Regions from separate parts of the Homo sapiens genome. Here region 1 is linked to region 2. Evidence: fine-mapped expression QTL. Tissue or cell type: blood mononuclear cells. Region 2 holds a variant in brackets; the other region holds the start of a gene. All regions are shown on one strand. Distances are from middle to middle.

Region 1 (8,000 bases), 120 kb after region 2:
GAGAGGCTAAACATATTGTCCTAAAGTTACAGAATAAATGGTGGAGGCAGAATAAGAACCCAGGCAGCCTAGTTCTATATCCTGCGCTCTTCACCACCACCCAATCCTTCCTGCCCAATCTTGCTTGGCTGGAAGTCACATGCAGTGATGCAGAGAGACCAATAATACTAATTAATTCCAGGAACTATTTGTTGAATGCTCATTAATACATGAAGCCCAGGGGCAAATTCTCGCAACTCCATGAAATACATTCATCTTCATTGTCTTTTTCAAATGTGGAAACAGAGACTCAGAGAAGTGAATTTACTTGTCCAAGGTCACAGAACTCTACCTTAGCTAATGTTGACCTGGTGCTTACTACATATCTATCAGAAACTACCCTAAGCGCAACTCATCTAATCCTCATAGTAACACTATGAGGTAAATTCCATTATTACCCATCCTTCTTCTTCTTTTTTTTTTTTTGAGATGGAGGCTCACTCTGTTGCCCAGGCTGGAGTGCAGTGGCACTGTCTTGGCTCACTGCAACCTCTGCCTCCCAGGTTCAAGCAATCCTCTCACCTCAGCCTCCCAAGTAGCTAGGATTACAAGCATGCACCACCACACCCGGCTAATTCTTGTATTTTTAGTAGAGATGAGGTTTCACCATGTTGGTCAGGCTGGTCTTGAACTCCAGACCTCAAGGGATCCGCCTGCCTTGGTCTCCCAAAGGGCCAGGATTACGGGCATAATCACTTGTCCAAGGTCCCACACTAGTAAGTAGCAAAGCCAAGATTCAGTCTAGCTTAAAGTCTTCCTTGAAACAACTTAATGCTGACACTTGCCTACATAATGGTGGAGCAGTCATTCAAACCCAGGTCTAATTCCTGCATGACAAGGATGGCTCTCAAAACTGCTGCAGTGCAGAGAGGCGCTAGAAAAGTGGGGAATAACAAGTGCTCTGGGGACTGCAAGGAAGAGGCATTTAAACTGCATCTTGAAGGAAAAAGTACTTGCTGGACAAAAAGAGCCATCATGCAATTTAATATTTGTAAAATAAATGAAAAATAAGTAACCCTATCCAACAGAAGACTTTTAAAAAGATGGCCCAGTAATGAAGAGCAGAGAAATTAAACTTTCTTTCCCACAGTAGGCTTTAAAGGGACTGAAGCCTGTTATCACTCGCCTGCTACAGCTTGGGCTTCTAAAGCCTACAAACTCTCCTTACAATTCCCCCATTTTACCTGTCCCAAAACTGGACAAGTCTTACAGGTTAGTTCAGGTTCTGCACCTTATCAACCAAATTGTTTTGCCTATCCACCCTGTGGTGCCAAACCTGTACACTCTTTTGTCCTCAATACCTTCCTCCACAACTCACTATTCCATTCTTGATCTTAAAGATGCCTTTTTCACTATTCCCCTGCACCCCTCGTCCCAGCCTCTCTTTGCTTTTACCTGGACTGACCCTGACACCCATCAGTCCCAGCAGCTTACCTGGGCTGTACTGCCGCAAGTCTTCAGGAACAGCCCTCATTACTTCAGCCAAGCCCTTTCTCATGATTTACTTTCTTTCTACCCCTCTGCTTCTCACCTTATTCAATATATTGATGACCTTCTACTTTGTAGCCTCTCCTTTGAATCTTCTCAGCAAGACACCCTCCTGCTCCTTCAACATTTATTCTCCAAGGGATATCAGGTCTCTTCTTCCTTACTCTACTCTTTACAACAGGGCTTTATGAAGTCACCCCCGCCTTCTTGGACTGCACCTCACAAACTTACACCACTATCCATCATCTACCCAACTCCTATAAAACAACCCCTTCCCCATCTCCCTTTGCTGACTCCGTTTTTAGACTCAGTCCACCTGCACCCAGGTGATTAAAAAGCTTTATTGCTCACACAAAACTTGTTCGGTGGTCTCTTCACACGGGCACCGCGTGACAGGTTTCATTAGAAAGTACTTTTGATGAAGGAAAAAAAGTTTTTATTCCCTTTAATTCTGACCACGTATTTTTAAAAATCAACAAAGAATCGATAGGTGCAATTTGCCTTTTGTAACATTAAAAATCAGTTAATTCTGACTTCCAATATTGGTCTCCTTCAGAGACCTTTGCAAGACACTCTTTCAGGTCCTGAAACACAGACATTTAGAAACCAAAACAAGCTGGGGAATTCAGGCTAAGAACTAGAAGTAACAGGGGCCCGCGTACAAGTTGTGGCTCAAACGCTGCAGAGCTGGGTTTTCTTTTTCCTGGCAAACTGATTTATAACCACACGAAGGGCAGCTGCAGAACCAGTTAGACCATAAGTACTATTCCCAAACAGCCCTAGAGGAAGGACCATACAGGGATGGGAATGGCAAGGGGGATTCTGGGGGTCGTCCTTGTTCCCAAGTTCCGTGAGACGCCGCAAGTCTTAATTCTTGCAGGAGCCAGGGTCCCCATGGATCCTGCTGCCCAAAACGTGCGAGCCCGGGGAGTTGGCACAGCCTCAAGGCAGCCCGACAAGGTGCCTCCACGCCCCCTTGCGGACCCAAATGATTGAGGACGATGTGCCAATTAACTGATAGGTGCAGGGTTTCAGAAATGCTCTCTCAGTTTAACCTCACAAAAAGCCCTTGAATCAGCCCTGTTTTACAGATGTAAAACACCGAGGCTCAGGGGAGTGAAGGAAGACTTGTCAGCAAAAAGGAAAACCTAGTGAAGACTATCGTTGGTCTTGCTCCTTTTATCAAGGAGTAGAGGGGCTGGGGTCGCCTCGGGACCCCACAGCGACCCCTCTTGCTCTCTTCGCGGATGAGGCGCAGGCTGTCAGCCGGGAGGCCTGGCGGCGTCCAGGTACACGGGAAGACGGACAGCGCGGTGGGTGGCAGGGACTTTGCCCGGCACAGGACTGCAGCAGCCAGGCTAGGGCGCAGCGCGCACCACCCGCTCGTCGGCTTCTGCCAGGCAGCCCCGCTTGGCGAGCGAGTCCTCAGGGACCGAGGCTGCAGCAGCTAAGCGCGGGCGCACCGAGGACCATCCACGCGCCCGCAGCCGTTCCGGCGCCCCACGCGAGTCGCAAGCCACGAGCCAGGGAGCGCGTGCGCGCAGGACTGCAGCGGGCACGCGTTGGCAGTGCCATCGTGAGCTCACCCGCTGTGTCTCTTGCCTTACCGTAGCTGTTCCCCGGTGACCAAGACCTCAGCCATGCGCTCCAGCTCCCTTTGCTGCGCCCCGCCACTCCCGCTGGTGCTGCTGTCACTGCCAGCACTGCCAGTGCTGCCGCCCTCCTCCATGGTTTTAGGGCCGTGCGGCTACCACTGGCTCCGCTGTCCGCCGAGGGTTTGGGTGCTCGGATCAGTCTGCCCTCACAGACGCTTCCCGCGCCATCTTTGTTCGGGGCAGCTCCGCTGCTCTGACTGGATTGGCTGGAGAGGGAATCCCTATGGGTAGGCAGACGCGCTGGGCTAGTCCGGCCCCAGAAACTTGAGCTTGGGGGCGTGGCTAGAGCCCCTCATGGTCGGGGGGCGGGGCCGATGGAGGAAAATATAAACATCTGGGCGGGGCGCTGCTACTGAGCTGTGTGTGCTGCTGGAGGCTGAATTTGGTGAGCTCTCTTTACCCACAAAGCTCATGCTGTAGAATCCTGGGGACAGGCCTGGAGGTTATTAGTGTGAAGGCGTTTTTATTGTACGTTCCACACCCCAAGTTGCCAGAGAGCAAAACATAATTCAACAATCTGGCCAAATGGTCAACAGTGAAGGTTATACATGTCATTGAAGGGCATGGAGAAATTAAACATTCTTCTCTCCCCAACCTCTCTCTCCAAAGACGACTTGTTTGCCTTATGTTGTAATCAATAAGGAACGCCGGCCTAGGAATCAGGCTGACCTGGGATCCAGCTCCGCTCCTGTGATGTCCTATTTAAATGTGTTTAATCCTCCCTTACAAAATAAAAATAATTGCGGCTACCACTTTTGACATCTGCTGCATTAAAGATACTTCAGGTATGGTATTACCTCGTTTAATTATTACAATAATTCATAAAATAGGTATTGGTGTTCGTTTTGCATTAGAATGCAGGCTTGGAGAGGTGAAGTTACTTGTCTAAGGCAAGCAAATAATAAGTATAAGAAGAGCCGGGCACCGTGGCTCATGCCTGTAATCCCAGCACTTTGGGAGGCCGAGGCGGGCAGATCACCTGAGGTCAGGAGTTCCAGACCAGCCTGACCAACATGAAGAAACCCCGTCTCTACTAAAAATACAAAATTAGCCGGGCGTGGTGGTGCATGCCTGTAATCCTAGCTACTTCGGAGGCTGAGGCAGGAGAATCGCTCGAACCCGGGAGGCGGAGGTTGCTGTAAGCCGAGTTCGGGTGAGCGGAGTTAGTGCCATTGCATTCCAGCCTGGGCAACAAGAGCGAGACTCCGTCTCAAATCATCATAATAATAATAAGAAGAAATCTAACCGAGGCAATTCTGGCTTCAAAGTTATGCTTTGAAAAGACTGAAAGACTGCCTCTTAAAATGGGGATACAATGGTATTGTCTATCCGTAAAAGATTATGAAAAGAAATTTGATTAGTACCAAATAAATGTTCTGATTTTCTGTTTCATGCAGAGTCGGAGTTGGTCTGCAGGAAGGCGAAGTAATGTTTATGGCAGTATTCATGTGTGTTGAGCATTTATTCTGTGCTTTACATTGTGCCAAACACTTTATCCTCACAAAACCCTGGAGTTTGGTATTATTTTCAACTTACAAATGAGAAAGCTTAAGTATAGAAAGATGAAGTAATCTGCCTAGAAAGTTAGGTAGCCCTTAAACCCTGGCCATACTCAGCCCCACTCCAGAAAGAGAATAGTTGCCCAACTCCCTTGAACATCCGGGAGCAGACCAGCTCTGAATCTGCATGAGACAGATGTTAGGTGACTCTTTTGCCAAAAGAAATTATTTAAGTTTCTTAATTTTTTAAATAGGCCACAATAGACATGTAGACCAAGGCAGACATAGTTCTAGGTGACTGTGATTCTAAGAGCCTTATTCTGCATAAAATACATAAATCATTCAACAGAAGTCCCAGAGTTAATGAGATTAAAAGGTGTCTGTTGCTCATGTTTTAATCTTATAACTACTAAATAGAATATCAAGAGTTTGCACGGGCTTCTCAGTCAAACATGCAATTTCTATCTCAATTCTGTCGTTTGCTAATTTTGCAACCTTATGCTAGTTATTTCTCTTGGCCTCCCTTTCCTATCGATAAAACAGGAATAATAATTTCTACTTCATAGGGATGTTGCGTGGCTTAAATGAAATAATGTAATCCCAGTTCTTTGGGAAGTTAGGGTGGGAGGACTGCTTGAGGCCAAGAGTTCAATGCCAGCCTGGGCAACATAGCAAGACCCTGTCTCTACAAAAAAAAAACAAAATTAATTACCCAGGTATGGTTGTGCATACCTGTAGTCTCAGCTACTTGAGAGGCTGAGGTGGAAGGATCACTTGAGCCCAGGAATTCAAGGTTACAGTGAGCTATGATTGCACCACCGCACTCCAGTGTGTGTATCAGAGCAAGACCCTGACACTTAAAAAAAAGAAAAAATAAATAACATTAAAATTTCTATTATGTAAAGTTTCCAAGATCCATGTCAGTAACACAAATTTGTAACTTTAAGATAAAAAAGCACCTTAACATAAAGAAAAGAAAAGAAAATTCGAGTTAGGAAAATACCTGATGCTATTGTTCCAGTGACAGTGAGAGAGCATGATTTATTTTTCTTGCCTGATAAGAGGTGTGTGTAGGGGGCGGTGTGTGTATAGGTAGGTATATTTGAACAGGAAATGGGAACTGGTTTGCTGTTATTGTTTTAACCTTTTGACATATGACACACACCATGCTCCACTGGGTAAGAAGACAGATCCTTTTTCCTAACTTAGGGAAAAATTGGTGAGCCACATCCTGAGGACATGTCCATGACTGTGAGCCCAGGAGCAACTGGTTCCAGATAAACTGTAATTTTTTAGATATTGATCAAGGAGAAAAGGGCACTCATATGGCAACTAATTCAGCATAAATATTTCAGAAAAACAGAATTCTGACAAACCTTGGTTTGATTCTTGGCCATGTTTGGGCAAGCTCCTTATCGTCTCTGAATTTGCTGTCCCTCTTTTGTAAAATTTAGATAATAACACCAATCTCATTGGGTTATTGGGAGGATTAAATAAAATTTACTGAAAGCACTTATTACAGGTGGGAACTATTAAGTGTGAGCTTTCTCTTCTAGCTCTCCACACTTTTCTCTTCTAGCTCTCCACACTTACCTCTTTCATGCCTTCTGTCTGTTTTGGTGCTTTGGGGCCAGTGCTTCTCAAAGGTTTGGCGGGGAAGATCCACCTGTGTGTGTGTGTGTATGCTTTCAACCCATTGAAGCCTGATACTTTGATGAAATACAATAATACAAATGAAGCCAGGTGCAGTGGCTCACGTCTATCATCCCAGAACTTTTGGAGGGTGAGGTGGGTGGATCACTTGAGGCCAGGAGTTGAAGACCAGCCTGGCCAACATGGCGAAACCCTGTCTCTACTAAAAATACAAAAATTAGCCGGGTGTGTTGGCAGGTGCCTGTAATCCCAGCTACTTGGGAGGCTGAGGTGGGAGAATTGCTTGAACCTGGGAGGCGGAGGCTGCAGTGAGCCAAGATCGTGCCCAGTTAGCAAACCACACTTGGAGTAGCACTGGTGTGATAAACACTTCCTAAAGGTCAGCAGCAATATAAAAAGGAGATGAACTTGAATTGATAAAATGCATGAAAGAATACTGTCAGCTATGAAGATTAATATGTTAGCTGTCATGATTATTGTTGCCTTTTAATATGCATTGGTATTATTCTTGCCTGATTTTAATTAATTAATTAATTAATTATTTTTTGAGACAGAGTCTCCTCTATCAGCCAGGCTGGAGTGCAGTGGCATGATCTTGGCTCACTGCAGCTTCTGCCTCCCGGGTTCCAGCAATTCTCCTGCCTCAGCCTTCTGGGTGGCTGGGATTACAGGCATGTGCCACCAGGCCTGGCTAATTTTTTTGTATTTTTAGTAGAGACAGGGATCTCACCATGTTGGTCAGGCTGGTCTTGAACTCCTGACCTCAGGTGACCTTCCCACCAGCCTCCCAAAGTGCTAGGATTATAGGCATGAGCCACTGTGCCGGGCCATCCTGCCTGATTTTAAAGGCTAACTGAAATGCCACCTTCTCTGGGCTATTTTCCTGCACTTCTCCAAGCAGTTTATTGCTATTTATCGCCCAAGGGGTTCACCTTGCCCACTGCCTAGAAAGAGCCGATTCATCAAGACAGGGGAATTGCAATAGAGAAAGAGTAATTCACGCAGAGTCGGCTGTGCTGGAGACCAGAGGTTTTTTGTTGTTGCTGTTTGTTTGTTTGTTTTTAATTATACTTTAAGTTCTGGAATACACGTGCAGAACGTGCAGGTTTGTCACATAGGTATACATGTGCCATGGTGGTTCACTGCACCCATTAACTGGTCATCTACATTAGGTATTTCTCCTAATGCTATTCCTCCCCAGCCCCCCACCCACTGACAGGCCCTGGTGTTTGATGTTCCCCTTCCCGGGTCCATGCGTTTTCATTGTTCAACTCCCTCTTATGAGTGAGAACATGTGGTGTTTGGTTTTCTGTTCCTGTGTTAGTTTGCTGAAAATGATGGTTTCCAGCTTCATCCATGTCCCTGCAAAGGACAAGAACTCATCCTTTTTTATGGCTGCATAGTGTTCTGTAGTGTATATGTGCCACATTTTCTTTATCCAGTCTATCATTGATGGGCATTTGGGTTGGTTCCAAGGCTTTGCTATCGTGAATAGTGCTGCAATAAACATACGTGCGCATGTGTCTTTATAGTGGAATGATTTATAATCCTTTGGGTATATACCCAGTAATGGGATTGCTGGGTCAAATGGTAGTATGCAGCCAACAGACATATGAGGAAAAGCTCATCATCGCTGGTCATTAGACAAATGCAAATCAAAACCACA
Region 2 (8,396 bases):
AGATTATGAAAGTCAAAGATCGTTTTTATAGTCATAAATTATATAAGTAGAGGCTCAAGAATTAACAACAGCTAAATGACATAGAGTTTGTATTCCAGAGGGAGAAAAGTTGATTTTTTTTGTACACCTTTTTGGGACAGTCTTGCTCTGTCATCCAGAGTGGTGCGATTTTGGCTCACTGCAACTTACGCCTCCAGGGTTCAAGCGATTGCCCTGCCTCTGCCTCCCAAGTAGCTGGGATTACAGGCATGAGCCAACACGCTCAGCCTGATTTTTTTTTTCTTTTTCTTTTTTTTTTCGAGATGGAGTTTTTGCTCCGTTGCCCAGGCTGGAGTGCAATGGTGCGATCTCAGATTACTGCAACCTCCACCTCCTGCGTCAGCCTCCCGAGTAGCTGGGATTACAGGCACCTGCCACCACACCCCACTAATTTTGTATTTTTAGTAGAGATGGGTTTTCACCGTGTTAGCCAGGCTGATCTCAAACTCCTGACCTCAGGTAATCTACCTGCCTCAGTCTCCCAAAGTGCTAGGATTACAGGTGTGAGCCACCGCACCCGGCCTCAGCCTGATTTTTTCCTACACATTAACATGCAATACTCCATACTGAATATAAAAATCCTTGCTACATAAACAACTTACTTTTTGTTAAACACAGAAAAAAAAAAATCCATGATATGGAAAAAAAAGTAAAGAGAAGGAAGAAAAAAGCATGGGGAACAGTTTGTGCCTGTAAGTCTTAAATTTGTTCCAATTCTACATTTCTCAGATCCCAGTGATATACAGGACCTTCGTATTATAGTAAATATAATACATACCATTTGATAAATTTCATTTTTTGCTCCTTGGAACTATTTATCTGTAAACAGGACAAAGATTCAAAGAGGCAGTGTTCAACATCTACATTCAATATCTAATGTTCCAGTTGTGATCTTACCAGTTGTAATTGAAAACTGACAATTTGTTACTCATCCAATTGATAATTTCTGGGACTTTCCAAGCCTTCCCTTTTGCTTTGGTAGAATTCTCTAGGGCCTTGTCTTGACTTCGTATTAAATGGGATTTAAACTAGGAAGAAAAGCAGATGTAGCCAGAAAGCTAGAGCCACATAAATACAACAGGATCTCTGTTTAGGAAAGTTGGAACTTTAGAAGCACTCAATTCACTATTTGGTCAAAGAAAAACAGATCCCTATACACCGTTAGGTTTAACTGCAGAAATCATGAGGGAAATGTCATGTAGTTTACCAAAATAATAAAGTGACATGGTACAGATATATTCTTCTTTCTGGGGATAACGTGACTACATTTTCCTCCCTTATATATTATTAGGATGATTTTAGCAGACAAAGAAATAATAGAAGCTGATTACTTAAAAGGGGGGAAATTGGCTCCCATTCAACTCATGCATGTAGTCCAAGGATGAATATAAAAATGTATCATCTTGAATTCTACAGGTTCTCCTGAATATAAAACTATTTTCGTTGGGCGCAGTGGCTCACACCTGTAATCTCAGCACTTTGGGAGGCCGAGGCAGGTGGGTCACCTGGGGTCAGGAGTTCGAAACTAGCCTGGCCAACATGGTGAAACCCTGTCTCAGGTAAAAACATAAAAATTAGCCAGGCATGGTGGTGCGCACCTGTAATTCCAGCTACTTGGGAGACTGAGGCACGAGAATCACTTGAACCCAGGAAGCAGAGGTTGTAGTGAGCCAAGATCATGCCACTGCACTCCAGCCTGGGCATAGAGTAAGACTCTGTCTCAAAAAAAAAAAAAAAAAAATTTACTCTACTTATCTAGTTGGAAGGAGGAAGGTCACATACTTTCATTCATCCTTGAAATGCTTGCTCATAAATGATATAACACAACAGGCATCATGAAGCATGTGAACTGAATCCAGCACTACGATAGCACCATATAGGGAATGCGCAGACATCAACTGTGCCCTGGATGACACATCATCAAAAATTTTTAAAAGGTGGTCTTGGACTTACGGTCACGTAAACAACTTAGTAGACTGAAAACAGACTTAAACAGAGAGGGAATAAAGATGATGATTATCCTACTGAGGAAGAAGAAGGTCAGCAAGATGGGGCTAACTGCAAACCAGTGTCAAAGTTACAGAGGTCATCAAGATCACCTTAAAGACATAAGACCCTCACTAGCTGCCAGCTCACTGCTTCACCAAGTGCACAAGGGTGGCTGGGGCTTCTGTGAAGGATCATTTTTTTGGTCACCAAGGATGGCACTCTATCCAACCATTCACTCCTTTTCCTCTTATTTTCTTAGCTACTACTGATCTCTGATAGACTAGCCCTGATAGACATTGCTCAAAATCACAGATAAACTGCAAGGATAAATGGATGGTAGACCTATTCCTTAGACTTGGTGTTTCTAGAAGGTGAGTAAATTCTGCATACAAAAGTACTGTGGTTTCCCTGCCAGCAAGACTTAAGCTTTAACTTCTTTCACACATCCAGGGATAGATTTGCAGTATTTTGTCTTCTGGGTCCTGCTAGATCACAGTCTGACAGAGTCCAAGCATCTGATATCATTTAGTATATTTCATAATTTAAAAATGGTCAAGACTGAAGAAATATTCATAACATGCTTTTTAATCATGCATTTGTAGAAAAACCTTATTTAAGAATTAGTTACAATAGAAAAGTTGAAGCTATTTTTTTTTAAAGAAAATCTGACTGGAGGCTATTAACCTTAGTACACTTATGCAGGAACAGAAAACCAAATACCTCGTGTTCTCACTTGTAAATGGGAGCTAAATGTTAGGAACTTATGAATGCAAAGAAGGAAACAATAGCCAAGCCAAGCGTAGTGGCTCATGCCTGTAATCTCACCACTTTGGGAGGCTGAGGCAGGCAGACCACTTGAGGCCAGGAGTTCGAGACCAGCCTGGCCAACTCAGCAAAACCCCGTCTCCATTAAAAATGAAAAAAGATTAGCCCGGTGTGGTGGCACACGCCTGTAATCCCAGCTGCTTGGGAGGCTGAAGCACAAGAATCACTTGAACCCGGGAGGAGGAGGTTGCAGTGAGCCAAGATTGTGCCACTGCACTCCAGCCTGGGAAACAGAGCGAGACACTGTTTCAAAAAACAACAAAAAAAGACCAGGCCCTGGGGCCTACATGAGGGGTAAGGTGGAGGTGGGAGGAGGAGAGGAGAAGAAAAGATAACTATTGGGCACTGGGCTTAATATCCTGGGTGATGAAATAATATGTACAATAACCCCCCGTAATACATGTTTACTTACATAACAAACCTTCGCATGTACCCCCAAACCAAGAATAAAAGATTTAAAAAAAAAAGAAAGAAAGAAAGAAAGAAAGAAAGAAAAAGAAAGAAAGAAAGAAAGAAAGAAAGAAAGAAAGAAAGAAAGAAAGAAAGAAAGAAAAGAAAACCCGAGCTGTACTTAAGGCCATCTCAACCATCTCAAGCCATCCTAAATGGAAGCAATAGTTGAAGGAGCCCTATTTCCTAAAGCAGCAAAAGTCCTTGAATCGACTTTTCAAAACAGTAAGCAATTGTTTTTAAGTGCCTACTCCATAAAAACGGTGCTAGCTGCTTGGGATACAAAACTCTCCAAAAGGCAATAACAACAGTGAGTCAGAGGACTAAAATAATTACTTCCTTAGCACTGACAACATTAACAAGA[G/A]GATATGAAAGCAGGAAATTGATTGTAGGACATAAAGTCCTATTAACTGATATTACTGAAACAAAATACTTCACATTCACAAAGTTATAACCCACTTACACTTATTTAATTGATTGAAGGGAGGCAAGAGGATGGAAAAGAAGTAAAAGGATTCAAAGTAACTTTAGTAAAGATAGAAAACCAAACATGACACTGTGATTGTCTGAGTGCTGCAGCTTCTGTGTCTTACTGCCAGAAATGTAAAGGCAATAAACAGATGGAAAGTCAAACTATGTTTTATTCTTCTGTATGTATCATTAAACGATAGCTGGGGTGGCCGGGCATGGTGGCTCACGCCTGTAATCCCGCACTTTGGGAGGCTGAGGCGGGCGGATCACCAGGTCAGGAGATTGAGACCATCCCGACTAACACGATGAAACCCCGTCTCTACTAAAAATACAAAAAGTTAGCTGGGCATGGTGGTGGGCGCCTGTAGTCCCAGCTACTCGGGAGGCTGAGGCAGGAGAATGGCGTGAACCTGGGAGGCGGAGCTTGCAGTGAGCAGAGATGCGCCACTGCACTCCAGCCTGGGCGACAGAGTGAGACTCCGTCTCAAAAAAAAACTAAATAAACAAATAAAAATAATAGCTGGGTACATTCCAAAGACTAGAAAGAACCTCTACTGTTAGTGATAACATGCAGAACAAGGGGTAGGATTTTCAAAGATAATCTTGTTTATCAGAAACTAGATTGTACTGTAAGTGCAGAGAAGCCTAAAAACAAAATTATTTCATCCGGCAAATGGAATATCTCAGATACATAATTCAACAAAAGAAATCTGTAACTCTATTCTAGATCTTTTGAAATTATTGGCAAAATAATTAAACCCAAAGGCCCGATCAAAGTATTTCAGTGTTGATTTACTTAACAAGCACGTAATAGCAGAGAGTATGTATAAGATACTGTTCAAGACCAGCAATGGATGAGGTCATCAAATACATTAAGCTTCACCCACTCAGGCATCTGATAATGAGAATGTAGATGATAAAAATAATGATAATTATCATTTACTGAGTGATAGATAGCCTGTGCACGGCCCTGTGCCAAGCACATTACAGGTTTATATCATTTACTTCTCAAAACAGTACTATGAGAGAGTTATTATATTCCCATATATATTATATTCCCATATTATGATTCCCAGTTTACAGATAAGGAAACTGGGGCTTAGACAAGGCAAACTTGCCCATGTATCTCAGAGTCACTAACAAGAAGATCCAAGAGAGAAGTGCTGACGGACTCACTCCAGGTCTCACCCCTGAACCTCCACACTAGACTGCCTCCCATTTCAAGGTGTGATCATGGAAACGAGGAGGCAGACAAGCTTGCAAAACAAGAGAGTGGAGTCTGCTTTGCCCACATTTATTCCTGTTTCCAGGTTACAGACGGTAATTTGGCTGGAAATGTTTTCCATAAAATTCTTAACCAATGGCCCGGCACGGTGGCTCCTGCCTGTAATCCTAATATTTTAGGAGGCCAAGGCACAAGGGTCACTTGAGCCCATGAGTTTGACACTAACCTGAGCAACATAGTAAGACCTTGTCTCTATTTATTTAAAATAATTTTTAAAGAAATATTCACCACCATAAAATGCTAATTACTTTGGAATTGCTTACCAAAAGAATGTGGCAGCCAGGCACGATGGCTCATATATGTAATCCTAGCACTTTGGGAGTCCAAGGTAGGCAGATTACTTGAGCTCAGGAGTTTGAGACTAGCCTGGGCAACATGGTAAAGCCCCATCTCTATTAAAAAAAAAAAAAAAAAAAAAAGAAAAAAAAAAGGATATGGCTATAGCACAGAAAACATTGCTCTGATCTCAGATAGCCCAGGGTTGAATGCCAGTTTAACGATTTACTTAATTACTTAACTGCTCTGAATTTTAGTTTTCTTCATCTATAAAATGAATTGGAGGAACAATGAAACAACATATGTAAAAGGCCTAGTAGGCCGGACACGGTGGTTCACACCTGTAATCCCAGCACTTTGGGGACCCGAGGCGGGCAGTTCGCTTGAGGTCAGGAATTCAAGATCAGCCTGTCCAAAATGGTGAAACCCCATCTCTACTAAAAATACAAAAATTAGCCAGGCATGGTGGTACACACCTGTAATCCCAGCTACTCGGGAGGCTGAGGCAGGAGAATCACTTGAACCTAGGAGGCAGAGGTTACAGTGAACCAAGATCACACCACTGCACTCCAGCCTGGGCAACAGAGCAAGACTCCATCTCAAAAAAATATTTGTAAAATAAAATTTAGACCTGGGCAAGATGGCCGAACAGGAACAGCTCTGGTCTGCAACTCCCAGTGAGATCAACGCAGAAGGTGGGTGATTTCTGCATTTCCAACTGAGGTACCCGGTTCATCTCATTGGGACTGGTTAGATAGTGGGTGTAGCCCATGGAGGGCGAGCAGAAGCAGAGTGGGACATTGCCTCACCCAGGAAGCACAAGGGGTCAGGGAACTCCCTTCCTTAGCCAACGGAAGCCCTAAGGGACTCTGCCATGAGGAACAGTGCATTCCAGCCCAGATACAATGCTTTTCCCACAGTCTTCACAACCCGCAGACCAGGAGATTCCCTCGGGTGCCTACACCACCAGGGTTTCAAGCACAAAACTGGGCAGCCATTTGGGCAGGCACTGAGCTAGCCGCAGGAGGTTTTTTTCATACCCCAGTGGTGCCTGGAACACCAGCGAGACAGAACTGTTCACTCCCCTGGAAAGGGGGCTGAAGCCAGGGAGACAAGTGGTCTAGCTCAGCAGTTCCCAACCCAATGGAGCCCAGCAAGCTAAGATCTACTGGCTTTAAATTCTCACTGCCAGCACAGCAGTCAGAGGTCGACCTGGGACACTCGAGCTTGGTGGGGGGAAGGGTGTCTGCCATTACTGAGGCTTGAGTAGGTGGTTTTCCCCTCACAGTGTAAACAAGGCCACCAGCAAGTTTGAACTGGGCAGAGCCCACCACAGCTATGCAAACCCATTGTAGCCAGGCTGCCTCTCTAGAGGCAGGGCATCTCTGAAGAAAGGCAGCAGCCCCAGTCAGGGACTTATAGATAAAACTCCCCTCTCCCTGGGACAGAGCACCTGGGGGAAGGGGCAGCTGTTGGCGCCGCTTCAGCAGACCTAAACCTCCCTGTCTGCCAGCTCTAAAGAGAGCACTGGATCTCCCAGCACAGCACTCGAGCTCTGCTAAGGAATAGACTGCCTCCTCAAGTGGGTCCCTGAATCCCATGCCTCCTGACTGGGAGACATATGCCAGCAGGGGTCGACAGACATCTCATACCGGAGAGCTCTGGTTGGCATCTGGCAGGTGCCCCTCTGGGACAAAGCTTCTAGCGGAAAGAACAGGCAGCAATCTTTGCTGTTCTGTAGCCTCCACTGGTGATACCCAGGCAAAGAGGGTCTGGAGTAGACCTCCAGCAAACTCCAGCAGAGCTACAGCAAAGGGGTCTGACTTAGAAGGAAAACTAGCAAACAGAGAGGAATAGCATCAACGTCAACAAAAAGGACATCCACACAAAACTCTATCCGAAGGTCACCAACATCAAAGACCAAAGGTAGATATATCCACAAAGATGAGGAAAAACCAGCACAAAAAGACTGAAAATTCCAAAAACCAGAATGCCCCTTCTCCTCCAAAGGATCACAACTCCTCACCAGCAAGGGAACAAAACTGGATGGAGAATGAGTTTGACAAATTGACAGAAGTAGGCTTCAGAAGATGGATAATAATAAACTCCTCTGAGCTAACAGAGCATGTTCTGACCCAGTGAAAGAAGCTAAGAACCTTGAAAAAAATGTTAGAGGAATTGCTAACTAGAATAACCAGTTTCGAGAAGAATATATATAACCTGATAAAGCTGAAAAATCACAGCATGAGAACTTTGTGAAGCATACACAAGTATCAATAGCTGAATCGATCAAGCAGAAGAAAGGATATCAGAGATTGAAGATCAACTTAATGAAATGAAGCATGAAGACAAGATTAGAGAAAAAAGAATGAAAAGGAACAAACATAGCCTCCAAGAAATATGGGGCTATGTGAAAAGACCAAACCTATGTTTGATTGGTGTACCTGAAAGTGACAGGGAGAATGGAACCATGTTAGAAATCACTCTTCAGGATATTATCCAGGAGAACTTCCCCAACCTACCAAGACAGGCCAACATTCAAATTCAGGAAACACAGAGAACACAACGAAGATACTCCTCGAGAAGAGCAACCCCAAGACACATAATCATCAGATTCACCAAGGTTGAAATGAAGGAAAAAATATTAAGGGCAGCCAGAGAGAAAGGTCGGGTTACCCACAAAGGGAAGCCCATCAGACTAAGAGCAGATCTCTCAGAAGAAACTCTACAAGACAGAAGAGAGTGGGGGCAAAATTCAACATTCTTAAAGAAAAGAATTTTCAATCCAGAATTTCATATGCAGGCCAAACTACGCTTATAAGTGAAGGAGAAATAAAATCCTTTACAGACAAGCAAATGTTGAGAGATTTTGTCACCACCAGGCCTGCCTTACAAGAGCTCCTGAAGGAAGCACTAAATATGGAAAGGAACAACCAGTACGAGCCACTGCAAACACATACCAAATTGTAAAGACCATTGACACTATGAAGAAACTGCATCAACTAACAGGCAAAATAACCAGCTAGCATCATAATGACAGGATCAAATTCACACATAACAA

Evidence for each region. PIP is the estimated chance that this variant, and not a neighbour inherited with it, causes the effect.
Region 1: it holds the start of DEPTOR, and the variant in region 2 is fine-mapped to the expression of DEPTOR in blood mononuclear cells (TOPMed, PIP 0.98).

What each region holds. Positions count from the first base shown.
Region 1 is chr8:119,869,103-119,877,102 of GRCh38, reverse strand. It overlaps DEPTOR (DEP domain containing MTOR interacting protein), which reads right to left and starts at 3,381. Exons shown (of 9, transcript NM_022783.4): 1 at 3,135-3,381. The coding sequence starts at 3,256. RefSeq lists enhancers at 2,644-2,693, 2,784-2,883, 2,518-3,018, 3,084-3,343, 3,019-3,519 and 1 more and a silencer at 3,363-3,535.
Region 2 is chr8:119,986,041-119,994,436 of GRCh38, reverse strand. All of the region lies in intron 4 of DEPTOR (DEP domain containing MTOR interacting protein), which reads right to left. Among named protein-coding and RNA genes, the nearest start is that of DEPTOR, 120 kb to the right of the region's middle. The variant G/A (reference allele first, on the strand shown) is at 3,668.